Linked DNA regions of Homo sapiens: region 1 is linked to region 2. Evidence: fine-mapped expression QTL. A gene starts in region 2. The other region holds a variant in brackets. All regions are shown on one strand. Distances are from middle to middle. Region 1 has its middle 28 kb from the start of SPA17. Region 2 holds the start of SPA17 (sperm autoantigenic protein 17).

Region 1 (4,394 bases), 28 kb before region 2:
ACTGGTTGGGGCTTTGGTAATTGTAATTCATTTAGAGAAGAAATGTGTATTTTTTTCTGTTATAGATTATCCCCTGACAAGCAAATACGCTTATCATTGAATTTTTATACAGGTCACATTAGAGGAAGCAAAGGGTTTAAAAATGTGCAAGTATGCCAGAAATTTGCAACTTAATCGGTCATAGGTCAGGTTTTTTGGGCATAGTTTTGGAGACAGAATTTGAGCATAGGTGGTTTACTAGAGAGTACATTCGGGAAAAACACCTGTAAGGATGACAGAGAAGCAGGACTGGATAGATGAGGTTGAACTGCGATAAGGTTACAATAAAAGTTTAGCCAATCCTTTGGGTGAGAGCTGGGACGGCTCTGCAAAACTGTCTAAATTTGAGGTAAGGGATCAGCCCTGGTACCAGAGCACTGACTAGGCATTAGATGGGGGCTGCCCCCAGGGAGGGCACAAATTTAATGCTGAGGGCAATTCTTAGAATAGAGGCAGCTTTAAGTCCTGAAAGAGTGGGGAGAAGGGGGCATATCTGGGTAGCACATTACAGCATTGACTATATTACTCAAGCAATCCAAAGGCCAGTGTCTCTAAACTCATTACTGGGACAACAGCACTGCAGTAATCATTCTTTCCTACCAACTGCTTGTTAAGGGTCCAGGTAAGCATATTTTCTATAATTTCAAGGACTTAATAAACAAGTTTTTCTGATAGCTTCCAAAATTGGGTTTAGTACTTGGTTTATTAAACTGGACCGTACTTCTTAGTAATATAGTTTCAGTGGTGTAAGATGCTATACTTTTTGTCATGAAGTCTTTGCCCAAGCCTATGTCCTGAATGATATTGCCTAGGTTTTCTTCTAGAGTTTTTATGGTTTAGGGTTTTACATTTAAGTCTTTAATCCATCTTAGTTAATTTTTGTATAAGATGCTATACTTTTTGGTCAGAAGCCTTCTGAGATAGGAGTGTGTCTTCAGGGGTAGAATAGTGGCAGATTCTCATACCTTCCCCATTGTATCTGACCCTCTTAGGGTTGTAGTTCATACACTTTCTGTGGTAATCTGATGGTCTTGCAGTGTTGATAGTCCTTTGTCAAAGTGTATGGTGGCTCCTGAAATTTTGGTTATAATAACATCACTCCCCAGCAGGCTTTAATTTTTTGGATCTACACAACAGAGGCTGCTTACTTTGAAGCCTATTTCATTCATGAAAATAATTTCACATTCTGAAGTATTGTATTCTGCATGTACAGACTCTTCTGAGACAATCACAGGCATAAATAATTGTCAATCCGAGTAGCTATATTTGTTTTATTTATTTATTTTTTATTTTTTTTCTGAGACAGGGTCTCGCTCTGTCACCCAGGCTGGAGTGCAGTGGCACAATCTCGGCTCACTGCAAGCTCCGCCTCCTGGGTTCAGGCCATTCTCCTGCCTCAGCCTCCCGAGTAGCTGGGACTGCAGGTGCATGCCACCATGCCCAGCCAATTTTTGTATTTTTAGTAGAGATGGGGTTTCACCATGTTGGCCAGGATGTGCTCGACCTCTTGACGTTGTGATCCACCTGCCTTGGCCTCCCAAAGTGCTGGGATTACAGGCGTGAGCCACCATGCCCGGCCTCCAAGTAGCTATATTTGTAAAAAGCACTTCAGATTGGAAATGAGTTTGTCAACATCATGAATTGATACAAAATGGATTATATGTTCATTACAGATAGCAGGAAAGGGAAAATAGGAATAAAAGTAGAGTCCTAGTCCTGTTTATAATGCACTCTAGAAATATCCTCAAGCCAAGAAACCTACAGGTAGGAAATTAGTACCTAGTTTTTGTATTTCCTCCACCCCCGGGCTGCCCCAATAAAACAAGAACATTGGAATAATTTTACAGGGGAAAATCCAAGTTTGAAGATAATATGGTGTCTGCTGAAATATTTCCAAATGTTAGATAGCTCAAGTGGAATACCTAGGAATTCATCTAACCAAGGAGGTCAGAGATCTCGACAAGAAGAACTACAAAACACTGCTGAAAGAAATCAGAGACGAGGCCAGGTGCAGTGGCTCATGCCTGTAATCCCACCACTTTGGGAGGCTGAGGTGGGAAATCACTTGAGCCCAGAAGTTTGAGACCAACCTAGGCAACACAGGAAGATTCTGTCTCTACAAAAATAAAAATAAAAAAATTAGCCAGATGTAGTGGCATAAGCCTGTGGTCCCAGCTACTTGGGAGGCTGAGGTGGGAGGATGGCTGCAGTGAGCCGTGATAGTGCCACTGTACTCCAACATGGGTAACAGAGCAAGACCCTGTCTCAAAAAAAAAAAAAAAAA[AAAC/C]CCAAACAAACAAAAAACAAATCGACAAGCAAATAATCCAATTAAAAATGGGCAAAGGACATGAACAGACACTTTTCAAAAGATGATGTACAAGTAGCCAATAAACATATGAAAAAAATGTTCAGCATCACTAATCATCAGAAAAATGCAAATCAAAACCACAGTGAGATAGATCTCACACCAGTTAGAATGGCAATGATTACCAAGTCAAAAAAGAACAGAGGCTGGTGAGGCTGAGGAGAAAAGGAAATGCTTATACACTCTTGGTGGGAATGCAAACTAGTTCATCCACTGTGGAAAGCATTTGGATATTTCTCAAAGAACTTAAAACAGAACTACCATTCACCCAGCAATCCCACTACTGGGTATATACCAAAGGAAAATTATTCATTCTATCAAAAAGACATGCACTCATATATTCAAAGCAAAGATAAGGAATCAAGCTAGGTGCCCTTCAACAGTGGATTAGATAAAGAAAATGTGATACATATATACCATGGAATACTACATAGCCACAAAAAAGAATGCAATAATGTCCTTTGTAGCAAAATGGAGCTGGAAGCCATTTTTCTAAGCAAATTAACATAACAGGAAACCAAATATTGCATGGTTTCACTTATAAGTGGGAGCTAAACACTGAATACACACAGACATAAAGATAGGGAACAATAGACACTGGAGGCTACTAGACGGGAGGGAAAGAAGGGGGAGTGAGCTGAAAAATTAACTATTGGGTACTATGCTTACTACCTGGGTGACAGGATCATTTGTAGCCCAAACCTCAGTGTCACACAATATACCCATGTAACAAACCTGCACATGTACCCCTTAATCTATAATAAAATTTGAAATTATATAAAAAAGGGAAAGCTCAAGTTGTTTTGAGGTATAGAAACTATTGGGCTAATTTTATTGAGGAATTGGGGAAATTACTGTTCAGTTTGCTTTAGAACAAAGAAAGTGAATGATGTAATAGTTTAGAGGCAGAATGACAGTGATAATTCAAGACCTTATTCTGGGTTCATCTCGGAATCACAGAGACATTGTTTGACTGAGCTTCATATCACAGTGGAACAGAGAAAAATTCCCTCCAAATTATGCTGGGTTTGTGTCTATTAAAAAGAACTGCTTGATGATCTCGACGGAAGATTCCTTCTCCATAGGTACAGTGTTCATAAGAATGTTTTATGAAAAATTCATGTTGACAAACTCTCACACTTAGCTTCCCACAGAGAAAATTTTGCATATATTTCTAAAACAGTTCAAGTTCTCTCTCTCTCTCTCCCTCTCTCATGATTTTTCATACTCTCTTAGACCCAAAGCTCTTTCTATACAGCCTATAGTCCTCTGTTCTACCAGCTGAGCTATCAAAGGGTGCACCCAAAGCTCTTTCTTTTGGGAGAGTCTCCTTTTTGCATTGCATAGCTCCAAGAAGCACCATTAGCATTGCAATTTATGTGGCAGGCTACCCAAATTTCCACATTCCCATGTCTTGTTAACCCCTCATATGCTGTTTCATTTTTCTTCCTTTTATTCTTGATACTTCTCTCATCTTTGGTTTTGATGAATAATTCACAAATGCAGTGTAGTGAGAAGCCAGGTGGTGATTAAAGCATTGTGGTGGATATTTGTTAGTTGACAACATTCCTCTATTCCTCTATTTCCTATAGGAGACTTCAAATTTCCTTCACTTTCAGCCAGATATTTTTGGGCAGAACTGACCTACTCCAGGGACAGGTTCTGACAGTCAAATGCATAAATTTATTAGCATATTCCTTTTCCCTGACCTCAATAATTGATTCAAGGATAGATGTATTACCCAATCAAAGCTAATTAGATGGAAGGAGATTTGCTAGGACTCCTTCAACTTCTGTATGAGGCACTAGAAGTGATTCATTCCTTCCCACTGCATATAAAAAAGGCGCTAGGCAGTGAATAGAATAACAAATCTCTATCTTCATGGAGCATAGATTTTACTGAGGGAAGCAGGCTGTAAACAAGATATATTAGATGGTGTCCAGAACTATGGAGATACATAACAAGGAGAAAGGGGAGTGCTTTTTTTAAA
Region 2 (4,394 bases):
CTGTTTCAAAGAGCAAGAACTGTTATCTGAAACTCCCTGCCTCATAAAAGGCTTTCTGCAGAATGGAGATGGTCTTAAGCAAGTTTTACCATAAACAAATGCTTAGTTTCTTATTTTAAAAAATGACTAATTTTAGAAAGCTTACTCTCTCTTTTCTCTAGAAGGCTCTCAAAATAGGCTGCTGCAAAAGCTGGTATATTGTCCGGTTGCTCTCTCAGAATCTCGCGTGTCAGCCCTTCAAGAAGATTCCCAAATCCTTGTGGAATTCGGTAGTGGGTGTTGGAGAATGGAATCGACATCTTCTTGGTAAGAACTGCCTATGGAACCTAAAGATTCATTAAAGAGTACTGTCTTTAAATTTGTCTGATTTTACTTATATAATCACAACTATGCCAACAAATTATTTCTGAGACTCATACATCTGGACTTGAATTCTTTTTTCCCTAACACAACCCAAGCCCATCCATTTCTTCCAAAGAGTTTTGAAATCTCCATTGTGAATTAGTATAATACAAACACAGACCCATTCACTAGGCCAAATCATTTAAAATCCTGCAAAAAACCCATAATTTTCAATATGACTTTTTCTCTCTTTACCCTTTATATGCTCAAAAGGTAAGGGTAATTTTTGCTATCACACAGGAATTTAGAGAGAATGATTGCTAAAAAGTTAAATTCATTGTCAATTGCTGAGAAGACCTTCTTTGAGGTCTATTTTTTTTTAAAGAGTAGAAATTAGTCCTGGTTCTAGAAATTAATTTGTTGAATGAAGAAGTTGCACAATCTTTCCCCTTGCTGCCACTTCTGAAGCATGACCCACAATGCTTCGAACACCTTCGTACTGTGGAATGGGGTTGTGCGTGCGTGTGTGTGAGGGAGGGATGGGATGGGATGGGGCTGTGTGTCATGATTTTGAAATCCCAGCCTCTAAAGTTTTAGAATTCTTATATTTTTCGGTTTCTTCTTGATCAGGTTGTCTCTTTCTGTCTTGAAATACAAGGGCTAGATTAAGGGTAGCTGCTAAGCAGCGGGCTGAGCTACTACTGAGTATGAAAAGAATCCTCCGGGACCTGGCCTGTTAATGTGAGAGTGTGCGTCAATGCGGAATAGAGGCGGAGGCCGTGGTAGGGGTCCAGGTTGGGAGAACTGGACGGTTTAATGAGGCTCAGACTATGGAGGGTTCTCGTTTCATCGCTTTTTTTTTCTTTGAGAGGGGGTCTCTGGCCTCGAACTCCTGGGCTCCAGCGATGATCCCGCCTCAGCCTCCCGAGCAATTGGGATTACAGGCGCGCGCCACCACGCCTGACTCCTCTCTTTTGCTTTTTCTGAGGGAGCAGTAGATGGGGGTATCGAACCATTCTAGAGTGGTGAAAAGAGCTGGCGAGATTCTGAACCAATGTGGGCAGAGGAGGGCGGGCGGAGGGGGCAGACGGGTCTAGTCGGGGGCGGGATGTTGAGGACCTGGGATTTCAGACTCGCGCAGAATGGGCTGCCTCGGCTCCCAAACGGCCCAGGGCTCCGAGGCTGTGTCTGGGATGCTGAGAGAATAAGAGAGACGAAGGGAAAAGGCTAGGTCTTGGTATCGGAGAGGAAGTGGGGAAGCGGCCTCACCTCCTTTCTCTCCGAGCTGGTGCCGCCGGTTCCGGTTGTTTTTCTAGTTGCTGGGTAACCGTTTTTTCTTTAAAAAAAAAAAAAAACTACGGCGGCCGAGAAGGGGCGAGTACAGCCCAGTCCTGAGGTCGCGGGAGGCTGCGAGGACTGCAAAAGGGTGGAGTCGGCCTCGCCCCCGCCCAGGCCCCGCCCCTGCCGGGAACCCACTTTCCCAGTCCTAGGCGGCGGTCAGATCCTTGCAAGCATGGTCGCGCCGGGGCTTGTACTCGGGCTGGTGCTGCCATTAATCCTGTGGGCCGACAGAAGTGCAGGTGAGGCGGCCCGGCTCGGCCGGACCCCTGCCCCTCAGCCTGTGCGGGCTCCGAGACCCCGTGTCCTCTGCGGGACACGGATCCGCGCCCCTTTCTCAAGGTCGACGAAGGAACCTAGCTAGGCTAGGGGCTCGCGTCTCCGACCGAGGCCCGGTCTGCAGGAGTCTGCTGGGTTGAACCCCGGCCTCTCCACTTTCTCCACCCCCCACTTACCATCCCTGACATGCAGCCTGTGAGCAGGGAGAAAGTGCGGCTTGTCTGAGTGGGGAGGCCCAAATGTGCCCAGAAAGAGGCCTTCGGGGTCCTGGAGTAACTGCAGGGGAGCTCGGAGGGAAGGAGGCGAAGCTAGTTAGGTAATATTTGGAAACAGGTGACTGAATCTTCCAAAACATTTCAGCGCTACCCCCTCAGTGGTGCCCTTGGGGAGGGTTTGCTTCAGGCGGGGTTCCTTAGGGGAATTAAATTTTACTCGTTTAAGTGGTTATCAGGGCTAAGAAATACAACCCCCTCACTAGCTCTGACTATTTAAGGCTCAGTTTTGATTTCTGGTACCGCTTACAGATATTGGTGGTGGGAAAATGTGAGTGGCATAGGGGAGGCTGGTGGCTCCCTTTGGCTGTTGCGCAGGTCAGATCTTGCCATTCGAATACCCTAGGCTGGACACTGGGTCACAGTATGGAGAAAGCAGAAGGTGCAATCTGTCTGATAATGCAAACTAAAGTGATAATGTTGGATTTCTTCCTTTCTGTTTCAAAACACTCAAAGAGTGGACCCCAGAGATCCCTGTTAAGAAATGATAGTTGGGGTAGGAGAACAGCGTGCAGAAAAATGACTCCTGCTCTACCTGAGAGCCGGAAAAGTACCTAGATTCAGACAAACTGCAGCCCATAAATGATTGTTCAGAGTCTAACAAAAGTGCAAAATGCTAGCACTCTGTATGCCATTTCCTGACTCTTATCTCCACTCAGTGACCTTTGAGATCCATCTTATGAGGTGGGGAAAAGATATTTTATTAGGTTTTCAGTTAAAGGCTGTTTATTTTAGTGTCAGTATTTTATCTCCTCCTTTGGGTCTTATTGTTACATCACCTTCATTAACATTGATCACATTTTTCATTCATTAGTACTCTACTTGGTTGCGTATCCTGACGTTTTTCCTTTAAGTCATTCTCCCTGTGCCCATGTTTACCATGTAATGCTTGAGATGTACAAAATTATATGTAACAATGACACAATAAAATGAACACCCATGAGAGCAGTACCCAACTTAAGAACTAGAACATTGCCAGTCTATTGAGCCTGCCATTGTGCTCCTCGCCAATGCATCCGGAGCTCCTCACCAGAGGCAACCACTGCCCTCTCTTCCCCATAACACTAATTCCTGTTTTTCTACTCCAGCCCCAAATGAAGGAAAAAACTGAAGACCTAAAAAATCCAAATGTTGGCTCACACCTTTAATCCCAGCACTTTGGGAGGCTGAGGTGGGCGGATCACTTAGAGTCAGGAGTTCAAGACCAGCCTGGCCAACATGGCGAAACCCCGTCTCTACTAAAAATACAAAAAAATTGGCCAGGCGCGGTGGCTCATGCTTGTAATCCCAGCACTTTGGGAGGCCAAGGTGGGCAGATCATGAGGTCAGGAGTTCGAGACCAGCCTGGCCAACGTAGTGAAACCCCGTCTCTACTAAAGATATCAAAAAAAAAAAAAAAAAGAATTAGCCAGGTGTGGTGGCACATGCCTGTAATCTCAGCTACTCGGGAGGCTGAGGCAGGAGAACCGCTTGAACCCCAGAGGCGGAGGTTGCAGTGAGCTGAGATCGCACCACTGCACTCCAGCCTGGGTGACAGAGCAAGACTCTGTCTCAAAAAAACAAACAAACAAGAAATCAAATGGTAAATGTATGTGTCTTGTGTTTGGCACAAGGAATGACCAGCCTTGCTCTCTTTCTCATTCTCTCTCTCTTTTTTTTTGTCCATTGCACAATTCCTTGATGTTCCACTGTCTACTCTAATGAACTTAGAATTTAAACTTTACAAAGATGAGGAATATGATTTTTTCTTTGATTTGCCACAAGTATCTAATTTCGGCAAAGTGGGAATTTCAACTTTGGAATCAAGTGACTTGTTTTCTAACTTGTCATAAACTGTGTGATTTGAGACCAAAGAACATTAATGTTTGTGGTGTGTTTAGCACTGTGCCTGCCACAGGTAAAGTCTCTAGTAGAATGGAAGCTCCCTGTGGGCAAGGATTTTTGCCTGCTATTATTATTATTATTTTTTCATCGTTATATCCCCAATGCTTAAAATAGTAGGCATCAATAAATATTTGTTGAATTAACTAATGAACATGCAAGCTATTTTAAAAAATTGTTTCATCTGCTTTGGTCTCAGTTACTTGATCAGTAATATGATTATACTTCTTGATCAGTAAGTAGCGTGTTTATACTACGATTATGAAGATCCTTTCCACCTCT

Evidence for each region. PIP is the estimated chance that this variant, and not a neighbour inherited with it, causes the effect. A credible set is the group of variants that fine-mapping cannot tell apart.
Region 1: its variant is the best candidate, but not a certain one, in a credible set for the expression of SPA17 in prefrontal cortex (BrainSeq, PIP 0.72).

The regions. Positions count from the first base shown.
Region 1 is chr11:124,699,557-124,703,950 of GRCh38, reverse strand. No RefSeq gene overlaps it. Among named protein-coding and RNA genes, the nearest start is that of SPA17, 28 kb to the right of the region's middle. The variant AAAC/C (reference allele first, on the strand shown) is at 2,324.
Region 2 is chr11:124,671,170-124,675,563 of GRCh38, reverse strand. It overlaps SPA17 (sperm autoantigenic protein 17), which reads right to left and starts at 1,660. Exons shown (of 5, transcript NM_017425.4): 1 at 1,612-1,660; 2 at 146-326. The coding sequence starts at 299. It overlaps SIAE (sialic acid acetylesterase), which reads left to right and starts at 1,825. Exons shown (of 10, transcript NM_170601.5): 1 at 1,825-1,922. The coding sequence starts at 1,856. It overlaps LOC124902780 (a long non-coding RNA gene), which reads right to left and starts at 139. Exons shown (of 2, transcript XR_007062933.1): 1 at 2-139. RefSeq lists an enhancer at 1,550-1,729 and silencers at 1,639-1,797, 1,770-1,889.